Linked DNA regions of Homo sapiens. The protein of the gene in region 1 interacts with the protein of each later gene in a pairwise test. Each region holds a gene or a part of one and is shown in the gene's direction. Other genes may lie near its edges. The genes, in order: MAPKBP1, ALG13 and RGS20.

Region 1 (10,507 bases):
AGATGGGGTTTCGCCATGTTGGCCAGGCTGGTCTTGAACTAATGACCTCAAGTGATCAGCCCTCCTTGGCCTCCCAAAGTGCTGGCATTACAGGCATGAGCTACTGTGCCTGACCCAAAAGTATTTTCTTTTTATCTTCTATAAGCTTTAAATGTTGTTTTTAACTTTTTAAACTTTTTTGTTAAAAACAAAGACACAAACACACACATTAGCCTAGCGCATAGAACTACATAGGGTCAGGATCATCAAGATGTCACTAAGTGACAGGAATATTTTAGCTCCATTATAATCTTACGGGACTACTGTCATACATGCCCTTCGCTGTTGACCAAAATGTTATTATGTGACGTATGACTGTACTTATTCTATGCCAGGTACTTTTTAAGCACTTTATATGAATTATTTAATACTCTGAGCAACTATTATCACCCTCATATTTTAGAGGAGGAAATTGAGATCCAAAGAGGTCAAGCAGGCCAAGTGCAGTGGCTCACGCCTATAATCCTAGCACTTTGGGAGGGCAAGGTGGGCGGATCACCTGAGGTCAGGAGTTCAAGACCAGCCTGGCCAACATGGTGAAATCTTGTCTCTAGCAAAATACAAAAATTAGCCTGGCGTGATGGCGGGTGCTGGTAGTCCCAGTTACTCGGGAGGCTGAGCTGGGAGAATCGCTTGAACCTGGGAGACGGTGGTTGCAGTGAGCCGAGATCGTGCCACTGCACTCCAGCCTGAGCGGCTGAGCAAGACTCCATCTCAAAAAAAAAAAAAAAAAAAAAAGGTTAAGCAGGCAGGGTGCAGTGGCTTTGGGAAGCCAAGGTGGGAGGATTGCTTGAGACCAAGAATTTGAAACCAGCCTGGGCAACATAGTGAGAACCCTGTCTCTACCAAAAAGTAAAAATAAAAAAAATTAGCTGGGTATGGTGGCATGTGCCTGTAGTCCTAGCAACTGGGGAGGCTGAGGCAGGAGGATTGCTTGAGCCCAGGAGGTGAAGGCTGCAGTGAACTATGATCGTGCCATTGCACTCCAGCTTGGGTGACACAGTGAAACCCTGCCTCTTAAAAAAACCAAAAGGGTTAAGGAGTTTGCTTGAGGTAACATAGCTAGTGTGTGTAATGGGGTTCTAACCCAAGTAGTATGACTGTAGAGCTCTGATTGTTAAAATGGCACAGAGTAGGGGGAGACCACACTGTTTTTTTTTGAGACAGAGTTTCATTCTTCTTGCCCAGGCTGGAGTGCAATGGCACGATCTCAGCTCACCGCAACCTCCGCCTCCTGGGTTCAAGCAATTCTCCTGCCTCAGCCTCCAGAGTAGCTGGGATTACAGGCATGCGCCATCATGCCCAGCTAATTTTGTATTTTTAGTAGAGATGGGGTTTCTCCATGTTGGTCAGGCTGGTCTCAAACTCCCGACCTTAGGTGATCTGCCCACATTGGCCTCCCAAAGTGCTGGGATTACAGGTGTGAGCCACTGTGCCCGGCCACTTTCTGCTTATTTTTAACAAATTGCTTTTCCTCTAAGCTGCCTACCTGCCCTTTGAATGAGAAGAGCCCCATTTATGGGCAGCTCAGTCTGTGCAAGGGAGACTTCTGCCCCTGGGTTTGGGGTCAGTGTCTCTCCCAAGTGGTCCTCTGGTGTTTAATGGCTGCAGTAAGGGTGCTGTGGGAGCCACACGGGCTCTGCCTGGCAAAGGCTGGGCTAGGCTCCATTTTCCCCTAGAGAAGCAAGCTGATGGAAAGACCTCTCTACTGGATAAGTTTGTGCAGCCTGCCTCAGGGGAATTCCACTTGTTCTTGCCTCTGCCTGGGAAAGCCAGGTTCCCTCTTGTTGGAGGTGGGGCTGGGGCTGGATGTAGCACAGGCAAAAAAGGCCTTGGGGTGCTGCTTGGTGCATGCTGAGACCTGTGTCCCTGCCCTGGAGAGTGTGGAGTCCTGCCCGCTTTCTTCCTCACACACCCCTGGACTCCAGGCCTGGCCTTTAAGGGCATGTGCTTATGCATGTTTATGAGCAGGTCTCAGCCCAGTGCATGTGCCTGGGAGTCATGATCCTTCCAGATGGTGTACAGGCTTTCCTGATGGAACCTCTAGTAGGTTTCCTAAGCGTGTATGCTTGGCTTAGGCCATCCCTGGGCAGTGCCCCTAATCTGTTCCCTGACCTTTTGATTTCTTAGAACTTGAAGTTGTCTGTGCAAATGGCTTCTTTTCTGGGTGTTTGAGTTTTGCTGTGTTCTAGAACTCCCTGATGTGCTGCTGTGATGTTGGGGGCCACCAGATTCTGTGTGAGCACAAGCAGGTTCTTCACCTCCCTCCTTGTCTCCCTGCTTTTCTTATCTGATCATCCTTACACTGCCCCCAGCCCCCACGCTCTTGTTCCTCCTGTGCCTGTTGCTTTGGGAGCCAGCTCAGGTATCCTAGAAACAAGGAGAGAAACAAAACTCAGAAAATTCTCTGAGGCCCGGAGGCGAATATCAAACCAAAACAAAGTTTTCTGAAAGGAAATGGAACAGCACAGGAAAGGAGGGTGGGCAGTGTGTCAGGCAGAGGTGGGTAGGAGCTCCAGGCTGAGCATGGAGCCTGTCCTAGTGGCTCCTACATCCCTTGGCCGTTGTTTCCCCACGGGAAGCCCCCCTACTAGAGGATGCCAGACAGCCCCTTTGAGAGACTTAATTGAGTTGAACACCCTTAATTGAGTTGGGCCTTTTCCTCAGCCAGCTGGTGGAAGGTTGATGGGCCTTCAAGCCCAGCACAGCCCCTGTGCCCCTGTGCCCCTGTGCCCAGTCCTGAGAATGGGTTTCTCCTGGCTCCTATGCCAGAATGGCCTGGGTGAGTGCCCTGCGCACAGCTGCTCCTCTCCCGCTGGGATGGGAAGTGTCCCAGCAAGGTGACGGGGTGTATCTGGCAGCTAAGAAGAGACCTCTTGGTTGATTTAAGTGGGGAGGAGAAGAGGGAACCCCTGCTCTCCTGAGGAGGCCCTCCATTTCCTCAGCCCATGTTAAAATTGATTCTGAGATCCTCAGCTTTGAAGCATTGCACTGGGTGTGACAGAATTCTCCTCCTGAACTGTGTTCTCGTGACACCTGAGCTGAAGGAACACAGAGCTACCTTCTTACTTGCTGTAGGGTATTCGCCAGGGACAGTAGAGAGACCAGGTGGGCCTGAGAGAAGAAAAGGTTGGGACTTGGTGCCCAGGATCATGCAGTGTGTTAGCAGACAGGCCTGTGACCTCAGTGTTCTGCTCTTTCCACCTCTACACTGCCCTTGAGCATCAAGGAGTCCTAAATGCCTGAGGTACAGGAGAACCATGGACCTCTCCCCAGGGCCCTCATTCACACTCTGCTACCCAGGAGGTTCCTTGGCAGCCAGGGCTTTGAGATCTTGCCCCTAGTGACTTGAAGACATATTCACTTGTTTACAAATAATTACTGAGGGCCTATCGTCTAGGCCCTGGGAAATTAACAGTAAGTAAAACAGACCAAAAATACCATCCTCACAGAACTGGCAGTCTGGTGTGTGAAGATGGATCCCCACCCCCAGTGTAAGTTATAAGCGTGATTACAAATTGATGTGTGCTTTGGAAACAGTAGAAGCGGTAGCAGTGACGGAGGTAGGGTTGTAATGATAAATAGGGCTGGAGGGCGACATTTGAGCGAGGCCAGAAGCCCCTTTGGCATGCTTCTGTGAGTCATTCTCAGATTTTACCTGGTCTGAAAGAAAACAATTCAAAGGCCCAGGGTCCCTGGTTGACCTTGTGTGTCCTGCTCCCTGTGTCTGTGCTGCCCCATGCATAGCTCATCCCATCTGGGGGATGGAGAGTGGTAGGAGGTGGATCCTATGGGAATCCTGGGCTCTTTGTGGTAGCAGCAGGCCTGGACCTGTGTAGGGAAGGGGGATGTTGAAGGCTTGGCCCTTCCTGGGCAGTGGGCCCAGCACCTGGCACTGGTACTCCACAGCGTGACTCCCCCAGGCTGAGGCCTTACGTCCTTCTGTGAGAGTGAGCAGCCGCCCTGCACCCTCAGGTGCTGAGTTGCAGGACTCAGCTGATTGGTCCAACCCAGCCCTTGGCATGTGGTGGATCCCAGCCAGCACTGAGCAAGGGCTCACCCTGCTGGGCAGGGTCAGGGGATGTGGAGAGAAAGATTGATACAAACTGTGCCCCGCACTCCTCTCCCCAGCTGACCTAGGAGCTTGCTCAGAGTTCACCAAGAAGGCTGAGAGGGCTCCTTGGTGCTTTTGAGAACAGGTCAGGAGGGCCTCAAGTCAAGCACACAAGGAGCCCTGGCTATGCTGCTCTCACTTCAGCATCTGCGTTATCGTCCCTGCATGTGTAGCTGCGACCGTGGTTGCATGCTGTCTTTCTCTTGTTGGATGGCTTCCAAATATCAATAATTAGAAATAAAAATAGTTGCTTAAGGGATGACCTCTGTGTGTTTCCTTTTCTTGCTTAGCTCTTCCATGGCACACCTGAGAATTTCTTAGGCTATACTGGGGGCAAGGGGATGTTAGAGGAGGGAGAAATTGCCTCATTGCCTCTAGCCAGTCATCCTTCTATCTACGTAGTGTTCCTACACACACACACATGCATCATTCACCCTTCTTCCACCATGGAGCTGAACATAGGAGAAGGAGGAAACAGAGGATATTGTGTCCCAGGAAGACTGAGTTTGTATGCAGTGACTTGGAAAGTGTTTTAAGCAGTCTGATGCACTACCCTTTAAAGGCTGAAATGCTGCTTTGGGATGAGAATTAAGGGAAAACTCATAAACTTGCAAATAGATCCCAGTTTTTCTGGATTTGGAATATGGTTGGCTGGATTATGCATCGAGTCAATTCAATTAGATCAACTCTCAGCTGAAGCCCTTTACTGTGGTTCCTGTGTAACTAATCAGAAGGCTAGGGAACCTGTCCCCATTCAGACTAGAGCCTTTGCTGGAGAGAGGAGTCTGTAGAGGGCCTCAGGTCAGCACAGATTGCAGGAAGGTTCAGAAAACGTTGTTTAACCACTGAGAACTTTCTGGGCTCTGAATTCATGATAGTGGCAGGCCTGGGGCTATTACTTTTCATATACTGCATAAAGTATTAAAACCTAAATATCTAAATTTGGCTGGGCACAGTGGCTCACGCCTGTAATCCCAACACTTTGGGAGGCCAAGGTGGGTGGATCACCTGAGGTCAGGAGTTTGAGACCAGCCGACCAATATAGTGAAATCACATCTCTACTAAAAATATAAAAAAATTAGCCAGGCTTGGTGATGGGTGCCTGTAATCCCAGCTACTGGGGAGGCTGAGACAGAAGAATTGCTTGAACGCGGGAGGTGGAGGTTGCAGTGAGCCGAGATCACGCCACTGCACTCCAGCCTGGGTGATAGAGTGAGACTCCATCTCAAAAAAAAAAGAAAAAAAAATCTAAATCTGTGCACTTTGAACTCTTATAATTTTCTTTCTTTCTTTCTTTTTTTTTTTTTTTTTTGTAGACCTAGTCTCGCTCTGTCACCCAGGCTGGAGTGCCATGGCGTGATTTTGGCTTGCTGCAAGCTCCGCCTCCTGGGTTCACGCCATTCTCCTGCCTCAGCCTCCCCAGTAGCTGGGACTACAGGTGCCCGCCACCACGCCTGGCTAATTTTTGTATTTTTAGTAGAGATGGGGTTTCACCATGTTGGCCAGGATGGTCTCGATCTCCTGACCTCGTGATCTGCCAGCCTCAGCCTCCCAAAGTGCTGGGATTACAGGCGTGAGCCACCACTCCCGGCTCTGTTATAATTTTCGTTTGCCTGCTCAAGAGCGATGGGGTGCAGAGTTTCCAGAGCCATCTTGCTTTTGTCGTACTTTTTTTTTTTTTGAGACAGAGTCTAGTTCTTGTCGCCCAGGCTGGACTGCAATGGCATGATCTCAACTCATTGCAACCTTCACCTCCTGGGTTCAAGCAATTCTCCTGCCTCAGCCTCCCAAGTAGCTGGGATTACAGGTACCCACCACCACACCTGGCTTATTTTTGTATTTTTAGTAGAGATGGGGTTTTACCATGTTGGCCAGCCTGATCTCGAACTCCTGACCTCAGGTGATCTGCCTGTCTCAGCCTCCCGAAGTGCTGGGATTATAGGCATAAGCCACTGTGCCCGGCCTGTCATACTTTTTAAAACCCTCCTGACTGTGACATTCTAGAAGGGGAAGCAGGAGACTAGAAAGTGGTATAAAAAGAGAAAGGAGTTCAAGACCAGCCTGGGCAACATGGCAAAACCCCATCTCTACAAAAAATACAAAAATTAACTGGGTATGGTGGCATGTGCCTGTAATCCCAGCTACTTGGGAGGCTGAGGTGGGAGGATTGCTTGAGCCCAGGAGGTCGAGGCTGCAGGGAGCTGTGATGGTGCCATGGTGCCACTGCAGTCCAGCCTGGGTGACAGAGCGAGACCCTGCCTCAAAAAAAAAAAAAAAAATGAAGGAAGGGCTGAGCCAGGGTGGCATGAGCCTGTAATCCCAGCTACTTGGGAGGATGAGGCAGGAGGATTACTTGAGCCCAGGAGTTCAAGACCAGCTTGGGCAACATAGTGAGACCTTGTCTCAAAAAAACAGAGAAAGGAAACAGGAACAAGGAAAGAGTAGGAAATGGAGAAAGAAGGAGGAAAAAAAAACAGGAAGAGTTGAGGGGTTAGAGGAGAAAATGATGTGACTCAGGAATTCCACAGCTGTTGGTCAGCCTGGCAGTTCTGGGCATATCTAGTCACATCGGAGGTCCCAGTGTCCCCAAATTTGCATATCAAAGTGGTTTATTGAGCCCAAGATGCTTAGCCCTCACTAGCAACTTGCACCTACCTCCCTTCAAGTTTCCAGCCAGTAGTGGCGTTCAGATATGGGGGCTGCAGTGGGGTCCCACTAGGGAAAATTAGGTCTGGGGGAAGTAGCTGTCTCCTCTTTCTCTCCTCCCTGCCTTTCCTATTCGCAGTCTCCAGGCTTGCTCTTGTCTGCTATTTCCAGTGCTAATGAAGAGTTGAGGCAGAAGGGGCAACGGGCCAGGGCCTGCTGACAGCCAGGAAGCCTAAAGAGAAGCTGCCTGGCTATTGGCCTTTGGCTTCTTGCCCCCGATTCCTACTACCCAGCTTCCATCTCCGGAGCTGCCTCTGGAAAGGCAGGACCTGATTCCATCCAGCAGCCTTGCTGCCTGACGGGAGAGGTTGCCCCCACCTTCTCTGTGAGGCAGGCAGAGTCCCTGATTCTGCTTCTGGCAGTCGGGGGGTTCTTCTCAGGTTTCTTGGGGCCAGAGATTCTCAGGGTGGGGCTTGGGACCTCTGTGGCACTGTAAGGCTTTCCCAGGCCTTCTCAGGCTATCTCTATCCCCCACCCCATCTTACTGAGCCTCTCTGCTGTGTGGCCCCTGCCTCGCCTCCCACTTCCTTCCTTATTCAACACATGGTGTGGGGGGCCAGCTCTTGCCAGGTACACACGTGGGTGCACACGTGAGAGGCCTTACATCTTAAGGCACACATGCTTGATACACGTGTGGCCCCAAGCCTGTGAACGGGCTGTGCACCCGAGGCCTGCTTTGCCCAAATCACATTTCTTCTTCCCTCCTACACCCCTTCCTGGGGTATGCACAAGGGCTGCGGGATGGCCTGTGTCCCTGCTGCCCTTTGTGGGTATGGCCAGAGATAGAGCTGGTATTTAGGGGCCTGGCTGGGGGGACAGGCTTCCAGGGAACCCTTTCACCCTCATGGGGCTACAGAGATAGTTCCTCTTGGGTGGGGAAAAGGAGCAAGAACAGGTTGCCAGGAGAAAGCAGTGGAGGCTGGGCACGGTGGCTTATGCCTGTAATCCCAGCACTTTGGGAGGCAGATCACTTGAGTTCAAGAGTTTGGGACCAGCCTGGGCAACGTGGCAAGATCCCGTGTCTACAAAAAAAAAAAAAAAAAAATACAAAGATTAGCTTGCATGGTGGCACATGCCTGTGGTTCCAGCTACTAGGGAGGCTAAGGTGGGAGGATTGCTTGAACCTGCAAGTTGAGGCTGCACTGAGCCATGTTTGCACCACTGCACTCTGGCTGGGATGACAGAGTAAGATCCTGTCTCAAAAAAAAAAAAAAAAAAAAAAGAAAAGGAAAAAAACAGTGGAGCCCTTCTGAGCTCTTTCTACCCAGCTCCCTCTGCCGGGTGACTGGAAGTCCTGGGTGGCCTGGAGGGCTCCTGGGGGAGCTGTGGTTTGCTGCTGAGCCTGTTGTCTGCTCATCTCCTCAGGTGTGTGGTTGTGTTGTTCAATCCCCGGAAACACAAACAGCACCACATCCTCAACAGTTCCAGGTAAATGGGCTGGGGTCCTCAGGATACCTCTTCCTTCTGGGAGCTATGAGAAGGGCACTGTCTAGAGTCTCTATGGCTCTGGGGGCTGGGACCTGGTTGGGTCCTAAAGCCAGATGGGGAAGTGCCACATGTGCCATTGGTGTCTGCTGGTCTCACCTTTTGAGAGGCTGGGAGGGGGCTAGGCTTAGGCCAGGCTGCCAGTGCCCCTCTGAGCCTGCCCCATCTCTTGCAGGAAAACCATCACTGCCCTTGCCTTCTCCCCTGATGGCAAGTACTTGGTCACTGGAGAGGTGAGTGAGGAAGAGGGCTGGCAGTACTGTAAAGAGGGCAGGTGTCCTGGCCTCCGCAGAGAGCTGCGGTCCTAGGCCTGCTGTCACTTTGGCTTCTGAAACAGACACCAAATCCTGGTTTTCGCTATACCTTAAAATAGTGGTTCTCAAGCTTTAGTGTACATCAGAATCACTTGGAGGGCTTGTGAAAGCACACATCACTAGCCTGGTCCTCAGAGTTTCTGATTCTGTAGGTCTGGGATGGGAGTCTGAAATGTGCATTTGTAACAAGTTCCCAGAGAGTGCTGATCCTGCTGGTGAAGGAAGCGTGCTTTGGAAACCACTGCCTTAACTATTCCTTACCCCCGGGGGCCCCCTGCTGGGCTCAGGAGGAACGCTTCTGTCCTGGCGGCGTAGTCTTACTAGGGGCAGAAATAGACCTGAGTGGTAGTGGCTCTCAATGCCGGCTGCCCATCAGAACCATTCAGGGAGCTTTGAACAACCTGAAGTACAGACGGCCACCCAGAGATGCTGACTAAAATCCGGGGCCACTTTCTTCCTGGTAATCACTGTTGCCCTCAGATCTTTATCATATTTCCTCTATACCCTGCCCTGACTTTTGGCTGGGGAAGTGATGGTATCTAGTAGCTGAGGAGGCGAGGGCCCCGCTCTGGAAGACGAAGTGGGGCTGTATGCCTGTGGAGAAGTCAAGAACTCACTTCCAGTTCTTGCCTCCCTGCAGAGTGGGCACATGCCTGCCGTGCGGGTTTGGGACGTGGCAGAGCACAGCCAGGTGGCCGAGCTGCAGGAGCACAAGTATGGTGTGGCTTGTGTGGCCTTCTCTCCTAGCGCCAAGTACATTGTCTCTGTGGGCTACCAGCATGACATGATCGTCAACGTGTGGGCCTGGAAGGTGAGTGGCTGGGTGGGGTGGCCTGGCAGCCTCACAGGGGTCAAGTGTCAGCTGGGGAGGCAAGAGACTGCTGACCTGCACTGCTCCATTCCACCCCACTGAACCATTCTCATTCTAGAAAGTTATTTGAAGCAGAAAAGAGCAACTGTGTGGCCAAGCATGTTGGTTGAAGGGGCTAGCTTTATGCCTTCAAAGACTTCTGCAGGAAACGAATCTTTTCAGCTCCTCTAGAAAGGGATTATTTCCCTACCCCTCTTTTTCTGGCCAGTAAATTCTGGAAAGAAACACTTTGTCAAGTACAAATTCTAATTCTCCTCCATTCTCTGAGTCACTGTCTTCTTAGCTCCAAGAGACAGAGCCTTGATTCTTCCTTTGGCATCCCCTCCAGAAAAACATTGTGGTGGCCTCCAACAAGGTGTCCAGTCGGGTGACAGCAGTGTCCTTCTCTGAGGATTGCAGCTACTTTGTCACTGCAGGCAACCGACACATCAAATTCTGGTATCTCGATGACAGCAAGACCTCAAAGGTGAGGTGCTGAAGCTGGGAGTAGCCACCAAGGCCCCTGGCAGGGCCTGCCCAGCCCAACCCAGGAGACTCTGCCCCACTTGGGCCTCTCTCTGCATTCCCAGCAGTCATGCAGAAGTTTTGGATGAGCCAGATGCTGTCTGGGCTGAGGAGTAGGCCCAAAGAGCAAGGAGGTGCTGGAGGCGTCCCCTGTACTCTCCTAGGGCCCAGTTTCCAGGGGCAGGCTCTGGGGTGGATGGGGGTGTAACAGTGGTGTGCCTCCACAGGTGAATGCCACTGTGCCCTTGCTGGGCCGCTCAGGGCTGCTGGGAGAGCTACGGAACAACCTATTCACTGATGTGGCCTGTGGCAGAGGAAAAAAGGCGGACAGTACCTTCTGCATCACGTCCTCAGGGCTGCTGTGCGAGTTCAGTGATCGAAGGCTTTTGGACAAGTGGGTGGAGCTGAGGGTAAGTACCTCCGTCCCCAGGGGTAGGGTCTGCTCATGTCTCAGCTCAGGGGAGAACTAGTGCC
Region 2 (10,507 bases), on another chromosome or scaffold:
GACAGATAACAATCTGGTGCTGGAGTTTATGTTCTTTTTTTCTTTTCTTTTCCTTTCCTTTCTTTCTATTTTTTTTTTTTTTTTTTTCTGGGACGGAGTTTCACTCTGTCACCCAGGCTGGAATGCAGTGATGCTATCTCGGCTCACTGCAACCTCCACCTCCCGGGTTCAAGCGATTCTCCTGTCTCAGCCTCCCCAGTAGCTGAGATTACAGGTGCACACTACCACGCCCCGGCTAATTTTTTTTTTCTTTGTATTTTAGTAGAGACGGGGTTTCACCGTGTTGCCCAGGCTGGTCTCAAACTCCTGAGCTCAGGCAATCCACCTGCCTCGGCCTCTCAAAGTGCTAGGATTACAGGCATGATCCACTGCACCCCTCCGGAGTTAATGTTGTTAACTAACCACCCTAGCATAAGATACCCAAAAAGGACTTATCTACTCACTTATCAATCTCCTTGCTCTCATTTAAAATAGTTAGATGATTTTACATTTCAAAATTGAATTGATCCTAATATTCTATATTTGCATATTCATGGAGATCTATCCTTGACTATTTCTGGGATAGCACCTCACATGTAAACCCATAAGAAGTGGTCAGGGTTTTTCATTATTGATGCCTGTCTGTCTCTATTGTAGGCTTGCTTTTCTACTTGGGGTTGAATAGAAATGAAGTATAGTTTCACATACAGTATGTCAAACCTGGATCTTATTTGGATTCAAGGCCATGCCCAAAGCATACTCCAGATGGCCCATCGTACAATGGTTTCACTTAGAGTTTTTCAACTTTATGGTGGTGTGAAAGCAATACGCATACACATTCAGTAGAAACCGCTCTTCGAGTACCCATATAACCATTCTGTTTTACACTTGGAGTATTTAATAAATGGCATGAGATAGTCAACACTTTATCATAAAATAGGTTTTGTGTTAGATGATTTTGCCCAACCACAGGCTAATGTAAGTGTGTTCTGAGCATGTTTAAGGTAGGCTAGGCTAAGCTGTGATGTGTGGTGGGTTAGGTGTATTAAATGCATTTTCTATTTAGAATATTTTCAACTGCTTTTTTTTTTCCTTTTTTTTTGAGGTGAGTTCTCACTCTGTCACCCAAGACAGGGTGCAGTGGTGCAATCATAGCTCACTTCAAGCTCCAACTCTTGGGCTCAAGCAGTCCTTCCGCCTCAGGCTCCCCAGTAGCTGGGACCACAACCACCATGCCTTATTGTTTTTGTTTTTATTTTGATTTTTTAGTAGAGACAAGGTCTCTCTATGTTGCAGAGAGTGGTCTTGAACTCCTGGGCTCAAGCGATCCTCCCACCTCAGCCTCCCAAAGCGTTGGGATTGTAGGCATAAGCCACTGCACCTAGCCTGTTTTCAACTTATGATGGGGTTATACCCCGTCACAAGGCTATACCCCATCGTAAGTTGAGGGTCATTGGTACTAGAGAGCAAGTAGCATAGCACTGAATCATAGGCCATAATGTCATCATCAGTGATAAAGTAATGTATTTTTCAAATAAAGTTTCTAGCACTTTTTATTAGAGAGCAACTGATAACTATACTCTTGTCATTTTGAATGTATAATTGAAAGACCTAGTTTGTAGTTCTGTCAACTTAAGTTTTTTAACTTTTGATTTCTAGCTATAAAGCTTCGTGGGGACCTTAACTTATTTCAAATTGTGTTGAACAAATTTGATTTATATTTGTAGGTGCAGGAAGCTGTTTGGAGACTCTGGAAAAAGGAAAGCCACTCGTAGTGGTTATAAACGAAAAGTTGATGAACAATCATCAGCTGGAACTGGCAAAGCAGCTACACAAAGAGGGTCATCTCTTCTATTGTACCTGCAGGTATGCTAGAGACTGATTATTATTATCTCTTGCCTTAATTCGTCCCTTGCACTTCCTCTTATCCACCTACCTAACCCATCTGTCTCTTCTGCCTCTTACCTTCTCCCAGTTACCAAACCTTTTGATTTTCTCAGCTGTAAAATCCTCCCATTTGTTTGTCTCCCATTTTGCAATCTCTGTGTTGTATTTCTATGTGTATCTGTGGCTGTTTCTTTGCATATGTGAATATCTGAGAGAGTGTGTGTATGTGTGTTTATTTAGGCGTGCATGTCTCCAAGACACTAATTTTGGAGTTCTAAATTTTGAGTTCATTATTTAGATTTTCATTATTCAAGGAAGACAATTTGCTCATTTTAGTTAAAAGTTTTGCCTATAGTAAATCCACTAAAATCCCTAAATTATATTTACTCTTTCATTTATTCAGTTACACCCAATATATAAAAGGCACTGTTTTAGGTGCTGTGGATACAGTAGTAAACATGAGATAAAGTCCCTGTTCTTATGGTGCTTACATTCTAGTGGTGGAAAATTGATAATAAGTTCACAAATAAATGATCAAGGTATTTCATGTGGTGAAATGTACTATGAAGAAAGTAAGACAGGGTGATGTGGTAGCTGGGGTGAAGACTGATTAGAATTGTCAGAGAAGGCTTGGCAGAGTACCTAACATTTTGATCTGAGACCCGAAATACAAGGAAGAGCCAGTCATGTGAAGATTTGGAGGCAGAAGGAACAGCAAGTGCAAAAGCCTAAGTAAGGAATGAACTTGGAGCTTGGTGTGTTTGAGGAACAGAGGGAAGATTAGTGTTGCAGGAGCATAGTGAGCAAGGGAATATAATAGAAGATGAAGTTGGGTGGGGGTAGCTTATGTAAGAGTTCTGATTTTATTCATGTTTATTGAGAAGCCATTGAAGTATTTTAAGCAGAGAAATTATGGTAAGGAGTATTATTTTCTACAAGTATATTAGAATTCAACAGGAACTGATCATCGTAATAGAAGGATGAAGAAAATTACTTGTTTGTTTTCTATTAGTTCTTCCTTGAGACACTAGAAGCTTGCCAAAGGGCCAGGTCAGTAATTCCCACTTGTTTGACTTTAAAACCTATCCTAGTTTGATGTTGCAAGAAGTAAATGCCTCATAGAATTACTATATATGTGTATATATATATTTATTTACATTATAGTAAAATGAAATTAATTTTAAAATAAAAAACCTGAGAAGAAACTGGCTGGAGCATAATTTTTCTTTTAGTTTTACTGCTTCTGTCTCTTAGGCACTCAGTAAATACTTATTCATTCATTAAATATTTATTGAGTACCTTCTATGTGCCAGGCATTGTTCTAGGCACTTGGTATACATCAGTGAACAAAACAAAGACTCCTGTTCTTAACTGAGAGGAGGCAGATTCATTGATTATTTCAGGAGTGAAATTGTTGGTGTCCTTATCACTATAATGTTGGAGAAGAGGGAATGTCAGGGTGGCTGTGTAACATAGAAGCCAGTCTTGAACTATTTAGTGAGTCAGGAGAGAAGCTAGATTAAAGAGGAATAAACTTATCTTCCTAACTGCTTTATGCAAGTCAATTTTTTCCAGATACTTTTAATTAGTATTTTCATTCTAAATGTTAAATCAGCTTTGATTTTGTGTTAGTACATTAAAAGGAAAACACTGATTTCATAAACATATCCTGACTTTTTACTCATGCTGAAAAGGAAGGAAACTGTACAAGTCTCCAATTTATTTTATTTTTATTTTTTTACAGTTTTAAATGTCTTTTTTTCTATATTAATTTCAAGAAAGTCACATAAAAGCAGTAAGCAGTGAGAAAGAATCAGTAATTGATTGGTTATATTTTCTTTTCTTTTTTTGAGACGGAGTTTCGCTCTTGTTGCCCAGGCTGGAGTGCAATGGTGCGATCTCGGCTCACCTCAACCTCCACCTCCCAGGTTCAAGCAATTCTCCCGAATAGCTGGGATTACAGGCATGCACCACCATGCCTGGCCTAATTTTGTATATTTAGTAGAGACGGGGTTTCTCCATGTTGGTCAGGCTGATCTCAAACTCCTGACCTTAGGTGATCCGCCTGCCTTGGCCTCCCAAAGTGCTGGGATTACAGGCATGAGCCACCACACCCAGCCAATAATTGGTTATATTTTCATTTTAGGTAAATCATTTATTTTCCCCAGACCTAGGCTGGGGGGTAGTATGTTTGTTCTAATTTAAGCGATTGGTTTAAATAAATTTCCGATGTAATGGTTCTATGTTTAAAACCTTATTTCCAGCATACATGGTGGTGTGGTATATTGTTTAATTGTATATGAAGTTATGATAGTAAATTACTGGCAAAGATTATTTCACAGTCTTCATGCATGGTCTAGTAGTTTCCCCAGCTTATTATCTTGTCTGGCAGCTATTACTTTTGGTTTCAATTTTTAAATTCTGTTTTCATGAATGAATTGTGCTTCAGTTTAAATATGCCCAGTCCTGAGAAGTATTACAAAGCCATGTGAAGACATTTTTCATGAAATATCATTTCTGAAATATATCAGTTGACATAGGAGATAAGGTATCTGCTGAATTTATATTGACATTTTATAGTACTCTTTGTATTGCTTTAATAATCCTAGTATGTATACTTATTAAAATATATAAAAATTCACATGTGCAGTTTTTAGAAGTACCACTATATTCTTGGAAGTTAGATTCAGTCATCAGTGGGCAGCAGATGAAGTATGGAATTTTCTCCCATGTTACCTAATATTTTTCTTCTTTTGTTTTAGCACGCTTCCTGGGCTGTTACAGTCAATGGACTTATCAACACTGAAATGTTATCCTCCTGGCCAGCCAGAAAAATTTTCTGCATTTTTGGATAAAGTTGTTGGATTACAAAAATAAACACTAAACTCTCAACACTTTAAAAGCAACCCCCAAATTCAACCTATGTAATGTGATTAAATCAAATTAAATACATAATATATATTTACAAAATAATATAATTAATAAACTTCCTACATCTATAGAATGTATAGGAAATTTTATGTTGTGCACATTTGCATTGGGTCCAAATCCTAATTGCAGTTTAGTGAAATTACTAGATTTTTTTCTAATCTTCAGTATGTAGTGAGCATTCACAGGTTTTCTCCTAGAATCTCAAGTGGAATTGGAATCATAAAAATGAATGAGATTTGAAAACTTTCACAAAGATTATAAATGTAGTTAGTTTGATACTCCTTAGAATAAAAAAATGAAACAGTAACAACTTTTATGTAAAAAAATTTTACATAAGAGTTAGCATCTTTAGCTTTATAATCTAAGGAACCAAATTTAAAAAATGATGGATTATGCTCTGTGAAATGAAAAGTTCAATCATTGCCTAAAAAAGATGATCAAGTTAGTTGATCTCTTGTACTTGGAAAAGCTACTTTTTTCCTAAAGAACAGAGTGGAGTGGATATATTCACTTTTTTTTTCTAAAACATACAAAGTGATAAAATAATCGTGCCTAATGTCAAAACTTTACTGGTTTGAGAAGAATAATCAAAAAGGACTTATACCAATAGGACTTACTATTGTTTTTTAAGGATCTCCTCTCACAGTGGTAATGAAACATTAACTGTAACAGAAATTTACAATTTATGTGCTTATAAAATTAGTTTTATGAATGAACAATAAACTGATGCATATAATGGCTTAAATATATGGTTTTAAAATTGACTTAACTTGAGCAAGATACATTATGAAGTTCTTTCTGATTAGAGTGTGTGGTCTCAAGACCTTTACAGTAGATTATCCTTAAGTGTCCATAGCTCTCTGGTACAATGTTTAGATATAGTTTATCTATCAAAATAGAACATTCACTATAAAGACCTCTCTTCCATTCCAATCATATTATCCCAACATGCTAAATGTTCCAAACATTTTATTTGGAATGCATTTTATCATGTTTTTATAGGTTTATTTTTCTGATTGTGTTTTATTTAGGCTAATATTAAAAAAATGCTTACTAGTGGTAGAAGGTGGTGACAAAGAAATACTCTGGGTAGCAGGAGGAAGCCAACTTGGATTAAAATTTTGCTGAGAATAATCTAAAAAGTGAGTAATCTGGTTGAGAATTCACAGCACCATAATCATAATTGTATATCAATGTTATGTTTTAGGAAAGGTCCTATTCAAATCCAGGGAGAGAATCTTTAGTGTTTTCTGGGCCCTCATAAATACGTTTTTCTCATTTGAGAAAATTGTGACTTTATGTTGGTCACTTAGTTTTTATAGTTTATGATGAAGAATTAAAGAGAAACAAATGAAAGGCAAGGTCTACTCAAATATCAGACAACTAAAAGGCTATACAGCCCCTAAATCCTTTGCTATCTACTTCCCCAGAATAATGCATAACCTAAATTCCATTATTTCATTTAGCAGAGGTTTAAGCCGTTGTTGTCAATTGTGTGCAGTAACGCCTCTGACTTCCCTTTTGTGGAATTTTGTATCGATTTTGGATTTTTAAGTCAAAGGAGACTTTAAAATCATTTTGATTTGGCACGGATTCTTGAGATTATCTAGTCCAATTCCATCATATTCAGATTTTACCATTTGCTTAAAGTATAGCTTTTGGCAGAACTGCCCCTAGGAGCAGCTCCTTGATTCCCAGTCCCCTGCTCTTTCTACCCTGCATAATATATGTTGTAAGCTTTTTGTTTCTTTATAGTTGTTTGCCTAGTGTTCATTTTAGTTACTCGAATTCCTTGCAAGGTAGGTTTTGTTTGTTTATTTATGGAAGTTATTTAGTAGGAATTTCACACTTAACTGGGTTTTCCTTTGGCGTATGACAACCTTACCTAGGACTTAGAAATCTGTGATTTCTGAGTTTTTGGAATTTAGGAAAATGCTCTGGGTAGGATTGATAGTAGATTGAATAAATTAAGACTTTAAGACAGAATTGTAGACTTTTGGAGTTGGGAGATAATTTAAAGAATATTTTAAACCACCAGTTTTACAGATGAGGAAACATGCTAAATTAATCACCACATTTACATCTTATTAGTCCTTATTAAAGAATGGTAACCAAAAGTCTGTTTGAAATGTTTGCTCTATTTGTTTGGTTTCATTACATGACAGAGCTGCAGGTTCTTGATATTAATGAGTAAGTGGAATGCAGTTTATTTAGCAGTGTTCTATTAGAGGTACTGAAATTTTCAGGGATAAGGAAATGAAAGAGAGTTTAGCATTGGGAAATTTGCACCATGGATAGATTAAGAGGTAGACAGTTAATAGAACATTTACGGGTTGGAGTAGATGAAAAGAGATGTGATGTTTTGGGATGACCTTGGGAATTAAGGATTTTAGATACTTATAATTTGGGAGGAAAGAAAGCTCAAAGGATTTGTTGGTAAGATAGTATAACCAATGAATTTGACATAGGGTTCTGGAACATTTAAAAGTAGTCATTATCTGCAAGTACCATCAAGTATCTGATTTTGGACACCTTAGACCTCTACTTTTTAATTTTAATTTTTTTTTTTTTGTATTTTAGTAGGGACGGGGTTTCACCGTGTTGCCCAGGCTGGTCGTGAACTCCTGAGCTCAGGCAATCCGCCCGCCTCGGCCTCCCAAAGTGCTGGTTTTACAGGCGTGAGCCACTGCACCCGGCTCTACTTTGTATTCTTTTAAAGGCAAGTCATATATAGGCACAAAAGAGTACAAAAAGGTTGTTTGCCACTTTAATATTTAGTTTGAGGAAGTTTTTCAAGACTAAGTAATGACTAGCAGTAATATAAATATTCTTCCTGGCCCTTTATTGTGGTATAAGCACGTAATTCCTCTGATTTGTTCATAAATGTAAAATTTGTGGAGATGACCAAAACACTTCATATAGTCTGAGAAATGACACATGGACAGATCATTTGAAATTAATTTTGGGGAAACATTTGGAAAGGGTCATCATGATAGCCATGTGGTGATCAATTTTCTGCTGTACATGTAATACCATTTATTTATTTATTTATTTATTTATTTTGAGACCAAGTCTCGCTCTGTCACCCAGACTGGAGTGCAATGGCGTGATCTCGGCTCAGTGCAACCTCCACCTCCCAGTTTCAAGTGATTCTCCTGTCTCTGCCTCCCGAGTAGTTGGGATTACAGGCATGTGTCACCCCGTGGGGCTAATTTTTGTATTTTTAGTAGAGACTGGGTTTCACCATGTTGGCCAGGCTAGTCTCAAACTCCTGACCTCAGGTGATCCTCCCACCTTGGCCTCCAAAAGTGCTGGGATTACAGGCGTGAGCCACCACACCCGGCCGTAATACGATATTTTTATTGGGGAGTGGGGAGTGAAAAATAATTTTGGTTAACACTAGTGCTTAGTATGTATCAGGTACTATTCAGAGCACTTTACACATATATACTCATTTAATCTTTAAATATTCCTGTGCAATAATTGGTATTGTCCATTCTACAAATAACATAATGTGAAAAAAGTTGTATTTCATTTTAGGGTCCAAGAGATGTTGTGGAAATTGTAATTTGAACACTGAATTCCAGTATACTTCCATCCTTTATGGGGACAGTAGGAGAGAATATTTGAAATCAGAGGATTTTCCTAAGAAATTTAGATTGTATGTTAGCCACAGGCGTAACGGTATGCTAGCCATAGGTGTATAACCTTTTTGAATTTTTACATTGCTACTTAAAAAACCACAGTGATGGCTACTCATAGAATCCATGTGTAGAATCCATGTGGAGAAACTCTTTCAATTGGTTTACCTGATTGCAAGTTATTTACAAATCTTTTTCTTTTTTCTTAGTTGTATTTTAAAGTTTCATTTTGGTCCTTGCTTTATTTCTTTTCTTGGAATTTTCAGCATTCCCACAGCTTCTACTGTTGACTCCTTTATCTGTATCTCCCAACTCTGATTTGGGCTCCTAAATGATATTTCCAATTGCCTTTGGCCCTGTCTGTCTGTTAATTCTGTAAGCACCTCAAACTCAAGGTGTGCCCCAAACTGAAATCATATTTCTTTTCATTCTTCTGAGGTGCTTATCTTTATTAATGGTATCATCATTTAGTCATTCTTCTAGCCTTTAACTCTGTCTCCAACCCCTTATATCTAATTGGTTTCCAAGCACTCACAGCTTTATTTCCTAAGTACCTCAAGCTTATGTATTCATCATTCAGGCTTTTAATATAAATGCATAATGAGAATCTACCTTTTGTATCAGCAGGATCCAAGACATGATTCCTGCTCTGAAGGACCTATGTCTTACTCATTTTTGAGTCCTTTGCCTGAAACACAGTAGGCTTTCCATAAATGATGAATGCACTTCTGTAACCTAGTACTCTTTTTTGATTGTCTTGATTAGGATTAGGTATTGTTCTAGGAAACACTGTCATCTTGTACACATTTATTTCATACTGACTTTGATTTGACAGCGAAGTATCTAGTAAGTCTCTTGTTCAGAAGATGTGACCATCATATTGTATGGTAAGTTTGTAGGATCAAGCACATATAAGAATAGCATCCCAAATATAACAGTGCTGATTCTATGCAGTATCTTAATGGTATTTAAGGGTCTGTCAAATAATGGTACCTGTCAGGGATTTGTGGCAAAACATGATGTTAAAAATCAGGTATATGAAAAGCACTATAGTGTTTTCTAGTAAAAGCTTACATAGAGAAAGGTTTAGGATATTACCAAACAATTTTTTTTTTCCTTTGAGACAGGGTCTCTCTGTCACCGAGGCTGGAGTGCAGTGGCAAGATATTGGCTCCTCTGCCTCCCCTGGTCAAGTGACCCTCCCACCTCAGCCTCTGGAGTAGCTGGAACCACAGGCATGGGCCACTACACCTGGCTAATTTTTTGTAGAGACGGGGTTTTGCCATGTTGCGCAGGCTGGTCTTGAACTCCTGGGCTCAAGTGATCTGCCTGCCTCAGCCTCCCAAAGTGCTGGGATTACAGGCGTGAGCCACTGTGCCCAGTCATCAAATGATATTTAATTACTTATTAAGTGGCTAATGGCTAATTCCCTACGTGAATGCTCTATTTATTATACAGTTTTTAATTCTTTTTTTTTTTTTTTTTTTTTTGGTAGGCGGCTAAACAAAAGGTAGACAAATCTGGCTAGGTTCAAACAGGAATGTAGAATACATGATGCTATTTATTTTTTTTTTTTTTAACGGAGTCTCGCTCTGTTGCCCAGGCTGGAGTGCAGTGGCATTATCTCCGCTCACTGCAACCTCCGCTTCCCAGGTTCAAGTGATTCACCCTCCTGAGTAGCTGGGATTACAGGTATCCACCACTACATCTGGCTAATTTTTGTATTTTTAGTAGAGACGGGGTTTTGCCATGTTGGCCAGGCTGGTCTTAAACTCCTGGCCTCAAGCGATCCACCCACCTCGGCCTCCTAAAGTGCTGGGATTACAGGCATGAGGCACTGTGCCCGGCCAGAATACATGCTTCTTAATGTTGATACTGATTCTTGAAAAATATTTTGACAGGCTTTTAATACCATTATATACCATCTATGTTGGTATTTCTATATCTTCATTGTCTTATAAATTTTTTACCATATTCTGGCCAAAATTACTTATTTTGATTGACACTTGTATCATAGCTTTGAACATGATTTTATTTTGGTGGCTGCAGTCCTGTTCTCTGAGGCAGTG
Region 3 (10,507 bases), on another chromosome or scaffold:
ACTGAGGTGCATCGTGAGCTTCCCGGACTTGACAGCATCAAAGGAAAATCCTGGCGAGCAGCCAGGGCCAGCGAGCGACCCCAGCAGCAGGGACGCGGCCGTGCGAGAGCTCGCGGACAGGCGAGGGGGATCCCAGGGGAGCAGCTGCTGCCCACGGGCCACGGGCGATGCACGGAGTGGAGAAGTGAACGTGGTCTACAGGATTTCTGTCCGGAAGGTGGAGAGCGCTACAGGGGAATCTCCTCGATTCCTGTCCGTCTCGTAACTTGGCAAAAGCTCGCGCCACTGCCCTCCGGCCTGGGCGACAGAGCAAGACTCCGTCTCAAAAAAAAAAAAAAAAAATGGCAAAAGCCTATCGCTCTTTGTCGAACTCCCCACGTTCCCCAGTCACCTGGCTGGGGTTCGTTGGTGTCAAAACCCCAGCCTTGGTGCCCTCGGTGCCAGCAGGACCCTCGCCCACTGGCTAGCGGAATTAGGCACCTGCACGCGGGCTCCTCATTGCCCCGGAGTGTGGGGAGGAAGGGGCTTCTGCATCAGTCTCCAGCCACCCTCCTTGGGACACAAGTGGCAGGGCCCTGGCGTGGCTTGGCTTCATTTCATCCCTAGTGGCTCCAAACCGTGGAATTGACTAAACAAATGTTCAAATTCGCAAAACGGTCTGACTTCCGCCCCAAACTTGACAAGGACATTTCTAGTGAAATTACTCTATCTGTAAGTTTTTTGGCACAACCATAGTTTGCAATTTACTATTTTTGTTAAAATATTTTTTCTCCAAACCTAATTTTTTTGGGGGTCTCATCCTGTTTATCTTCTGTTCGTTAAGTGACATCTTTCTTTCTTTTTTTTTTTTCTTTGAGACTGAGTTTCGCTCTTGTGGCCCAGGCTGGAGTGCAATGGCGCGATCTCGGCTCACTGCAACCTCCGCCTCCTGGGTTCAAGAGATTTTCCTGCCTCAGCCTCCCAAGTAGCTGGGGCTGGGATTACAGGCATGCGCCACCACTCCCGGCTAATTTTTTGTATTTTTAGTGGAGACGGGGTTTCTCCATGTTGGTCAGGCTGGTCTTGAACTCCCGGCCTCAGGTGATCCGCCTGCCTCCGCCTCCCAAAGTTCTGGGATTACAGGAGTGAGCCACTGCGCCTGGCCATAAGTGACATCTTTCTTATCACGTATTAGTAACGCATATGAGAGGCAGTGTTGCCAAACCAGTGGGAGTCTTGAGCTCTGTAACTGGGTTCAGATCCCAACCTAACTGCATAAACTTGGACTAGTTACTTATCCTCTCTGGGCGTTAGTTTCATCATCTGTGAAATGGGGGTAATAAGAGCACCTACCTCGGCAGCTCAGCAGAGCACGGTGGCTCACTCCTGTAATCTCAGCACTTTGGGAGGCCGAGGCAGGTGGATCACGTGAGGTCAGGAGTTCTAGGCCAGCCTGGCCAACATGGTGAAACCCCATCTCTACTAAAAATACAAAAAATTAGCCGGGTGTGGTTGCTGGCGCCTGTAATCCCAGTTACTCTGGGGGCTGAGGCAGGAGAATTGCTTGAACTCAGGAGGCAGAGGTTGCAGTGAGCCGAGATGGAGCCACTGCACTCCAGCCTGGGCAACAAGAGCAAAACTCCGTCTCAAAAAAAAAAAAAGAGTATCTACCTAATGTGCTAGCTGACAGCATTCAGTAAATTAATAACATAGAGCTCTTATAACGGGATGGCACATACCAAGCAAAAGCTGTTATTACTATTATTATATTGATGCTAAATTGGCTAGACTTCAAACTATAAATAAGATCAGTAACAGAATGCATATTTTTGTATACTATAAAGAGTATGCATAATGAAACACATGTCCATCATCCAAATTAGAAAAACAGTCTTTTTTTTTTTTTTTTTTTTTTGATGCTGGGTCTCACTCTCTCACCCAGGCTGGAGTGCAGTGGCACGACTGAGGCCCACTGCACCCTTGAACTCCCAGATTCAAAGGATCCTCCCACCTCAGCCTCAGGAGTAGCTGAGACTTAAGGTGCCTGCCACCGCACCTGGCTAATTTTTTAATTTTTTATAGAGACAGGATCTCGCTGTGTTGCCAGGGCTGATGAACAGCCAGTTTAAGAGAATCTGAAAATGTACCTTAGGAGCTTGAAGTGCTAACTTGTCTGAGATCACTGTAAACGTTTTAGCTGAAACACCCCTTATATCAAAAATACAGAATGATGAAAATCAGGTTACTTATTCTACCTCCTTCGTTTTACAGATGAGGAAACATTCAGAGAGGTTAAGGGTCTGGGCCAGAGATCTCCAGCTAATTAGGGGCCAAAATAGAATGAAGACTTCTGACTCATTCCCCAGGGCTCTTACACACCACACTGCTGATTTCCTGTTTACTACGGATTAATGAACTGTTAACAGATAGAAAGTATAAATAAGGAAAAAGTGTACGAGCATGTGCTATCTCTAGCACCAAGAAGGACCAGGCAGTCATGTCGTGGCTACTGTTGTCCCACAGCTTTATCTTGGTCCCTCACATTATAAGACATGACCACATGACTCGCCTCAGGTAAGGTAAGGTCACAGATCAAGCTATTGTCAGAGCCAGCATTAGCATTTTAGGCCCCACTTGGGTATACATTTGATTGCATATTCTATTAATCTCCTGTAGCAGTTTTAGAAATCATTTTTGAGCTTTTCTTGAATTCTTAAAATATCCTTCCAGCTGGCTTTGAAGGTCTTTCCTATAAGAAAGCCTTTTAGAAAACGCCTTCAAAATTACACAGAAGGAGATTTTATTATTCTAGATTTTATGGACTAGCGAGAGTAAAAGAGAAAAGCTTTCTTATTTTAATGCAGTAGCCTGTAACTGGTTTCATTCCAGGCATTAAGTATTAATTCCTGAAATCCTGCTGTTCTTTTATTTCCGCATGTGGGCATCTAACCACATTCACCTTCCATGGACAGATGCAGATAGTGGCTTAAAGGTCCAGCCCTCACATCCACAGTTTAAGAATTATACAGCAGAGGCCGGGCGCGGTGGCTCACGCCTGTAATCCCAGCACTTTGGGAGGCCGAGGCGGGTGGATCACGAGGTCAGGACATCGAGACCATCCTGGCTAATGCGGTGAAACCCCGTCTCTACTAAAAAATACAAAAAATTAGCTGGGCGTATTAGCGGGCGTCTGTAGTACCAGCTACTCGGGAGGCTGAAGCAGGAGAATGGCATGAACCTGGGAGGCGGGGCTTGCAGTGACCCGAGATTGCGCCACTGCACTCCAGTCTGGGCGACAGAGGGAGACTCCGTCTCAAAAAAAAAAATGAATTATACGGCAGAGACTTTCTAGTGAACATCTGGTCTTACAAAGTTATTTATAGGGATGGTGTGTCTTCCAGGGGAGGTACTTCTAGGAATTATGCCTGCATCCTTGAAAAAGGAAACCGTGGTTTTTTCCAGTGTGTGAACTGGATACTGAGTATCTTACTCTTTTTTTTTTTTTTTTTTTTTTGACTCCAAGAAACCTCTTGCATGAATACCCTACTCTTGAATACTTTGCATCTTGGGATACTTACTACATGTTCTTAGACAGAAGGACAGGGCATTAAGAAGGGAGTGACTTTCTAGCATGCTCCCAAGCCAGTTTGGCAGAACTTAGTTTTGAAATCACATGTGTCAAGTTAGGTCCCAATATGATTATAATGTGAATCACTGTCCAATTGGGAATATTTCAGATTGGTTTTCAGTGCACCACCAGGTGACTCACAATGTGAGCTTCTATTCAAACAAGTACAGTGTCAGTCAGCAACTAATAGGGCTCACTCTGAGTCAGAGCTTAGCATTTAGTACAATAAGTGGGAGTCACTGACTACACGGCACCATCTGAGATGGTCCCTGAATGTTACTTTGCGCAGCTAGCTCAAGAGTTAAGGCGACGCTGCTTGGAGTGAGTCAGTTCATAGTACAATTGAATGGGCTCTTGGAGAGGCCATTCACAATCAAGTTTGATGTGGCTGAGTGCTCAGAGTAATATTACATGATTATAAATTCATGGAGTAGATTACCTTGATTCTAATCCAGCTGATTAGAGTCTAGCTATTTGCATAGGGAATCACTTGTGAAATATGAGTAATATGCTCTGTTGCCCAGCAGTGATATTTTACATGAGTTATTTCAATAGTTATTAAAGCCAGTTGACCTTTTTGATTTTGAAAGCTCAATTTCTAGTTACGCATTTATTTTATTCTAAAGTGTAAAATCCTTTTCATGTGAGCATTTGGGTTTTAGGCAAAGGCATCTCATGCAAAGTTATCTGATAGCTTGGCTTCCTGAGGTGCTGGGTTGTACGATGTGCACCTCCGTCCAACAGTGAAGGAGTGGAGAACGCCCTGCTATCTGGTTTGTCTACATTTGTGCCCCTCTGAAGCTGACTGAATTGTGGTTGTTCAAGGCTGGAGCACAAGTTTGTACTGCTGCTCTTAGACTAAGGACACTGGGGACTTTAACCCTTTTAGGGCTGAATGGCTAGAATCAACACTTATACAGCTGTTGAATTTTTGCAACATTGGAAAGAATTATGTAACCTACTCCTTACCTCACCCTTATAATGGACTTTTATGTCTCAGGGTGGGGTGATAATGTGATTTAAGGGACTCGTAGATTTCTTTCTTTCTTTCTTTTCATGTCTTTTATTAACTAATACACAATTACTTGTCTTCTGGTTTGTTGAAGCAATAAATCAGACAACATTAGCCACAATAATGCCTGTCAGAGTGGCTGGCCATAAAAACTCCAGCACCGCATTCATCTGAAGGGCACTCCCAGCGAAGGCCACTAATTCTGCCATTTTCATCCACCTTATAGTATTTCAGGACACCCACTTCACCTTCTTTCTCTTATGCTTATTCTTGGGAGTCGTGTAAGATTTCTTCCTAGTTTTAGCACTACCATGAAGTCTCAACACAACATAAAAAGAGTAAATTCCTTTTGAATGTTGTAGTCAGAGAAAGTTATGTCCATCTTCCAGTTACTTGCCAGCTTCCAGTCACTTGTCTTTGCTGATCAGGAGGAATTCGTTCCTTATCCTGGATATTGGCCTTTACATTTTTCTGTTGTATCCAAGGGTTCAACCTCTAGGGTGATGATCGTCCCTGTAAGGATTTTTGGAAAAATCTGCATTTTGGTGGAGGCTCCACCTGAGGTTGAGGGAAATGAAGAGATGGGTTAGACTGTGGACACAAGAGAGGTGACACAGGAGAGGGTGCTGGCCAGAGAGCAGCCCAAGAGCACACGCCCATAGATTTCTTAATTTGTATAAAAGTCATGTTGATAATTAATGACAGGAAGTCATTATCCAGAGAACTCAGATTAGACTACTGTTAAAAAGTACATGTGGCCAGGCGTGGTGGCTCACGCCTGTAATTCCCACACTTTAGGAGGCCAAGACGGGTGGATCACTTGAGCCCAGGAGTTCCAGACCAGCCTGGGCAACATAGTGAAACCCCGTCTCTTTAAAAAATGCAAAAAATTAGCTGGGTGTGGTGGTGCACACCTGTAGTCCCAGCTACTTGGGAGGCTGAGGCTGGAGAATCACCTGAGCCTGGGGACACTGAGGTTGCAGTGGGCCATGATCTTGCCTCTGCCCTCCAGCCTGGGCAACAGAGTGAGACCCTGACTTAAAAAAAAAAAAGGTATATGTATATTTTTCTCTATTCATCTTTTGATGACTCCAGAAGAATCTTACATGTATGGGGTCTTCCATTATACATTCATTGTGTTTTTACAAATACTTATTTCTAGTGACTACCCAGATATAATTCATATATCTCCTGCCATAAAGAAAGGTATAGATATTTCTTTGCATTTAAGGGGGACTTTACATACAGAGTTTAATTCTTCCTGACCTACTATAATCCCCGCAAATTTCAGTTGTTAGGACTGTTTAATGAATTAGAGTATTTCTAAAACTGAAACAAAGTTTTTCTGTGTTTGTTAGGTTTCAGTGAGGAGCTATTTGGTATTTTTGTGAGGTTTATGACAGCTTTTAACTTCATTTACTTGAGTTATAACTTACAGTAAAGTTTACACATCTTAAGAGTACAGCTTAGTAAACTTTATGTAAGTGTACCCCCACAGAACCACCATTTAGATCAGGGTTTCTCACCTCAGCACTGTGGAAATTTGGGGTTGAACAACTCCTTATTGAGGGGGGCTGTCCATTGCCCTGTAGGATGTTTAGCAGTATCCCTGATCTCCACCCACTGCATGATGCAGTAGCGCCCCTCCCTGGATGCCATGACCAAAAATGTCTCTAGACATTGCCAAGCGTCCTCTGGGGCCAAAATCACTCACCACGGCTCTAGATGAAGATATAGGATATTTTCAGCCCCCCGTGCTCTCCCAAAGATTCCGTCTCGCTTCCTTCCATTCAGGACTCACTCCCACAGGTAACCACTTTTATAACTTTTTTCACCATATACCAATTGTGCCTGCTTTTAAACTTCATATGTAATTAAACAGTGTATAATATTTGCATCTGGTTCTTTAGCTCAGCATTATGTTTTTGAGATTCATTTGTTGTTGTACGTGTTGTTATTTTTTAATGCTGTGCAGCGTTCCTTTGTGTGAATACACCACAGTGTATTCCATTCCACTACTGAAGAAATTTTAGTTGTTTCCAGTGTGGAGCTATTATGAATAATGCTAATATGAACATTCTCATTCATGTCTTTTGATGAACTTATTTCCTTTGGGTATATGCCCAGGATAAAAATTGTTGGGTAATAAGTCCAGTGTATGTTTAGCTTTAGTAGATACTGCAAAACTGTTTCATAGTCCAAATCAGTTTACATCCATCCCCACCAGCAAAGTGTGTATTGCTTCACATCCTCACCAGTACTTAGTATTGTTTGCCCATTTAACTTTAGTCATTCTGGTGGCTGTGTAGTGGTATCTCATTATGGTTTTAATTTGTATTTCCCTGGCTACTAATGATGTTAAGCATCTTCTTATATGTTTTTGGGTCAAGTCATTTGTATATTTTCTATTTAAAATGCCTCTACAAGCCTTTGGCCCATTTTTCTTTTTCTTTCTTTCTTTCTCTCTCTCTCTCTTTTTTTTTTTTTTTTTTTTTTTTTTTTTTTTTTTTTTTGAGACAGGGTCTCACTCTGTTGCCCAGGCTGGAAGGCAGTGGCACAATTAGCCGTGAAGCTGAGACTATAGGTGTCCACCACCACACTCAACTAATTTTTTTATTTTGGATATTGGGAAGGGGTAGAGATGGGGTTTCACCATGTTGCCCAGGCTGGTCTTGAACTTCTGTTTGGCCCATTTTTCTATTGTGCCGCTGATCTTTTATTATTGTTATTATTGATCTGTCACAGTTCTTTATATATTCTGGATACAAGCCATCTGTCAAAATTCTGTGTGTGTGTGTGTGTGTGTGTGTGTGTGTGTGCACGTGCTGCAAATCTCTTCTTCCAGTCTGGCCTGCCTTTACACTCTCATTCCATTATCTTTTGACTTTCCTAGTTTCTGTTGGAAAGTTATGCTTCTTTGAAGGTAGCCTGTTGTTATCCTCATAAAGTTTTTCTCTCATTTTTGACTTACCACAGTGAATATAATGTGCCTATATGTGGTTTTCATTTTATTTATTCTCCTTTGGGTTAACTGAGCTTCTTTTATCTGTGGATTGACGTCTTTCATCAACTTTGGAAAATTTTCACTCAATATCTCTTCAAATATGGCTTTGTCTGGTTTTCTTTCTTTCTCTCCTGCTTCTGGGACCCAAATCACAGATATGTTGGCCTTTTTCCTTCATGTCTCTTATTGTCTGATCTGTTTTGTTCATTTCGCATATCTTTCTGCTTCAATTTGAATATTTTCTGTTGACCTGTGTTTTAGTTAATTAAGCTGTCTTCCTCTGTGCCTGAGTCTTCTGTCAAATCATCTAGTGAGTTATTAATTTCAGAACTTGTTTTCTTCTAAATGTAGTATGCCAATTTGATTCATTTTAATACATTTAAATTATCTGATGAAATTTCCCATCTTTTCATCAGTTTAGTCCATCTAATTCTTATCTACTAAATCCAATGAGATCATCTGTGTGCCTGTATCCATTTTTTTATTCATCACATTTTTATCTCTCTTCACATATCTAGTAATTTTTATTATATGTAGACATTGTATATAAAGAAACTGTGTAGGTTCTGGTAATTTCTTCCACCAGCAAGGATTGAATCTCCCTTGGAGGGATTTCCTGTCTAAGGATGAAGGACTGAAGGGCTGATCACTTCAGGCCAGCAGGTATTAGAATGGGTCAGATCTGGTAACAGTTTTGGGGGTTTTTTTGTTTTGACATGGAATCTCCCTCTGTCACCCCTAGAATGGAGTACATTGGCACCATTATAACCTAGAATTCCTGGGCTCAAGCAGTCCTCCCACTTCAACCTCCTGAGTAGCTGGGATTACAGGCACTTGCCAATTCACCTGACCATTTTTTACAAATGTTTTGTAGAGATGGGGTCTCGCTATGTTACCCAGACTGGTGGCTGCAGTTTTAATAAGATTTAGCTAATGCCCAGTTCTTTCTTGTTCCTTGGGAATTTTCTCTTGGATTCCAGAATGAAAGCCTGATGGACTTCTATCTCCTTGGTCTCAAAAGAATGGAAGACTCAGTCTTGCCTTCAGAGGTTTTAAGTTTGTTCTTTGCCTCCACCTTCCCCATATGGCCGCCACATTTGATAAATGTCTTGTAGGACCCAGCCATGTGTTTGAGGAAGTCCTTGTTACTGAAGGGGACTTGTTCTGCCACATGAGAAAAGAGTCCCTTTATGTCCACAGCTTGTGCTAACGGTCAGCAAAAGCCCTCAGGAAAAAAACAGCTAGTGACAGACAGCTCAGCTTGGAAGAACTCTCTTACTCAGAAATTTTAGTTTATATAATATTTTTGCTTTCACAGTTCTCTGATGACTTTAGAAATGTAATTTCACTTATTTATCTGAGTTTTTTAGTTGTTGCATAAGAATAGTGATTTGGGCCAGGCGCAGTGGCTCATGCCTTTAATCCCAGCACTTTGGGAGGCCAAGGTGGGTGGATCACTTGAGGTCAGGATTTCGAGACCAGCCTGGCCAACATAGCAAAACCTCATCTCTACTAAAAATGCAAAAAAATTAGCCAGGTGTGGTGGCGTGTGCCTGTAGTCCCAGCTACTCAGGAGGCTGAGGCAGGAGAATCGCTTGAACCCGGGAGGCAGAGATTGCAGTGAGCCAAGATCATGCCAGTGCACTCTAGCCTGGGTGACAGAGCAGGATTCTGTCTAAAAAAAAAAGTGATCTGCCTTGACCTATTGACATTTTTCTTGAATTAATTTTCTGTGTATTACATTGTTATCTTTCTTTTATATCATTTGTTTCCAATGTAATTCAGAAAATGTGTATTTAAAAATTTGCCATTTGTGAGTGTAAAATGTAATACATGTTTTGTCAGTTTGAAAACACTGGAAAGAAAAGAAGTATGTTATAATTTTTGCAACTTTTTTTTTTTGGTCAGTCCCTTCATCTAGGCAGCCTAGGCCCAGATTTTTTTTTAAATTATTATTATTATTACACTTTAAGTTTTAGGGTACATGTGCACAATGTGCAGGTTAGTTACATATGTATACATGTGCCATGCTGGTGTGCTGCACCCATTAACTCGTCATTTAGCATTAGGTATATCTCCTAATGCTATCCCTCCCCTCTCCCCACACCCCACAACAGTCCCCGGAGTGTGATGTTCCCCTTCCTGTGTCCATGTGTTCTCATTGTTCAGTTCCCACCTATGAGTGAGAACATGCGGTGTTTGGTTTTTTGTCCTTGTGATAGTTTACTGAGAATGATGATTTCCAGTTTCATCCATGTCCCTACAAAGGACACGAACTCATCATTTTTTATGGCTGCATAGTATTCCATGGTGTATATGTGCCACATTTTCTTAATCCAGTCTATCATTGTTGGACATTTGGGTTGGTTCCAAGTCTTTGCTATTGTGAATAGTGCCGCAATAAACATACATGTGCATGTGTCTTTATAGCAGCATGATTACACTGTTGGTGGGACTGTAAACTAGTTCAACCATTGTGGAAGTCAGTGTGGCGATTCCTCAGGGATCTAGAACTAGAAATACCATTTGACCCAGCCATCCCATTATTGGGTATATACCCAAAGGACTATAAATCATGCAACTCTTTATGCTTCAGATTGCAGTTATGTAATGTAAAAAGCATGAGTATTGGAATGAAAGAGAACTAGGCTCAAACTTTGACTTTGATCATTAGTTTTGTGAGCCTCTGAATTTGAATGTGTATAGCAGTGATAAGAATACTTGCTTTAACGTAATACATGTACAGCAGAGGGTTCAAGAGAGTATCAGTAAGTGGTACCTCTTGCCAATATTCTCCTAATATTTATCATTATTTTAAGCCCCTGACCATGTATAATTTGATTTTAAACATTTATATTTTGATATATTTCTATTTGGTACAGTT

The links.
Region 2: the proteins of MAPKBP1 (region 1) and ALG13 interact in binary tests that used the Homo sapiens proteins (3 or more experiments, as listed by UniProt).
Region 3: the proteins of MAPKBP1 (region 1) and RGS20 interact in binary tests that used the Homo sapiens proteins (3 or more experiments, as listed by UniProt).

Annotation. Positions count from the first base shown.
Region 1 is NC_000015.10:41,802,659-41,813,165, forward strand, and holds part of MAPKBP1 (mitogen-activated protein kinase-binding protein 1), read left to right. Parts: intron 1-8,224; coding exon 8,225-8,287; intron 8,288-8,519; coding exon 8,520-8,577; intron 8,578-9,298; coding exon 9,299-9,469; intron 9,470-9,857; coding exon 9,858-9,995; intron 9,996-10,260; coding exon 10,261-10,443; intron 10,444-10,507. UniProt on the Homo sapiens protein: Negative regulator of NOD2 function. It down-regulates NOD2-induced processes such as activation of NF-kappa-B signaling, IL8 secretion and antibacterial response. Involved in JNK signaling pathway.
Region 2 is NC_000023.11:111,683,259-111,693,765, forward strand, and holds part of ALG13 (UDP-N-acetylglucosamine transferase subunit ALG13), read left to right. Parts: intron 1-1,706; coding exon 1,707-1,845; intron 1,846-2,878; coding exon of another isoform or gene 2,879-2,897; exon of another isoform or gene 2,898-2,916; intron 2,917-4,628; coding exon of another isoform or gene 4,629-4,743; exon of another isoform or gene 4,744-6,914; intron 6,915-10,507. UniProt on the Homo sapiens protein: Catalytic subunit of the UDP-N-acetylglucosamine transferase complex that operates in the biosynthetic pathway of dolichol-linked oligosaccharides, the glycan precursors employed in protein asparagine (N)-glycosylation.
Region 3 is NC_000008.11:53,882,320-53,892,826, forward strand, and holds part of RGS20 (regulator of G-protein signaling 20), read left to right. Parts: intron 1-10,507. UniProt on the Homo sapiens protein: Inhibits signal transduction by increasing the GTPase activity of G protein alpha subunits thereby driving them into their inactive GDP-bound form.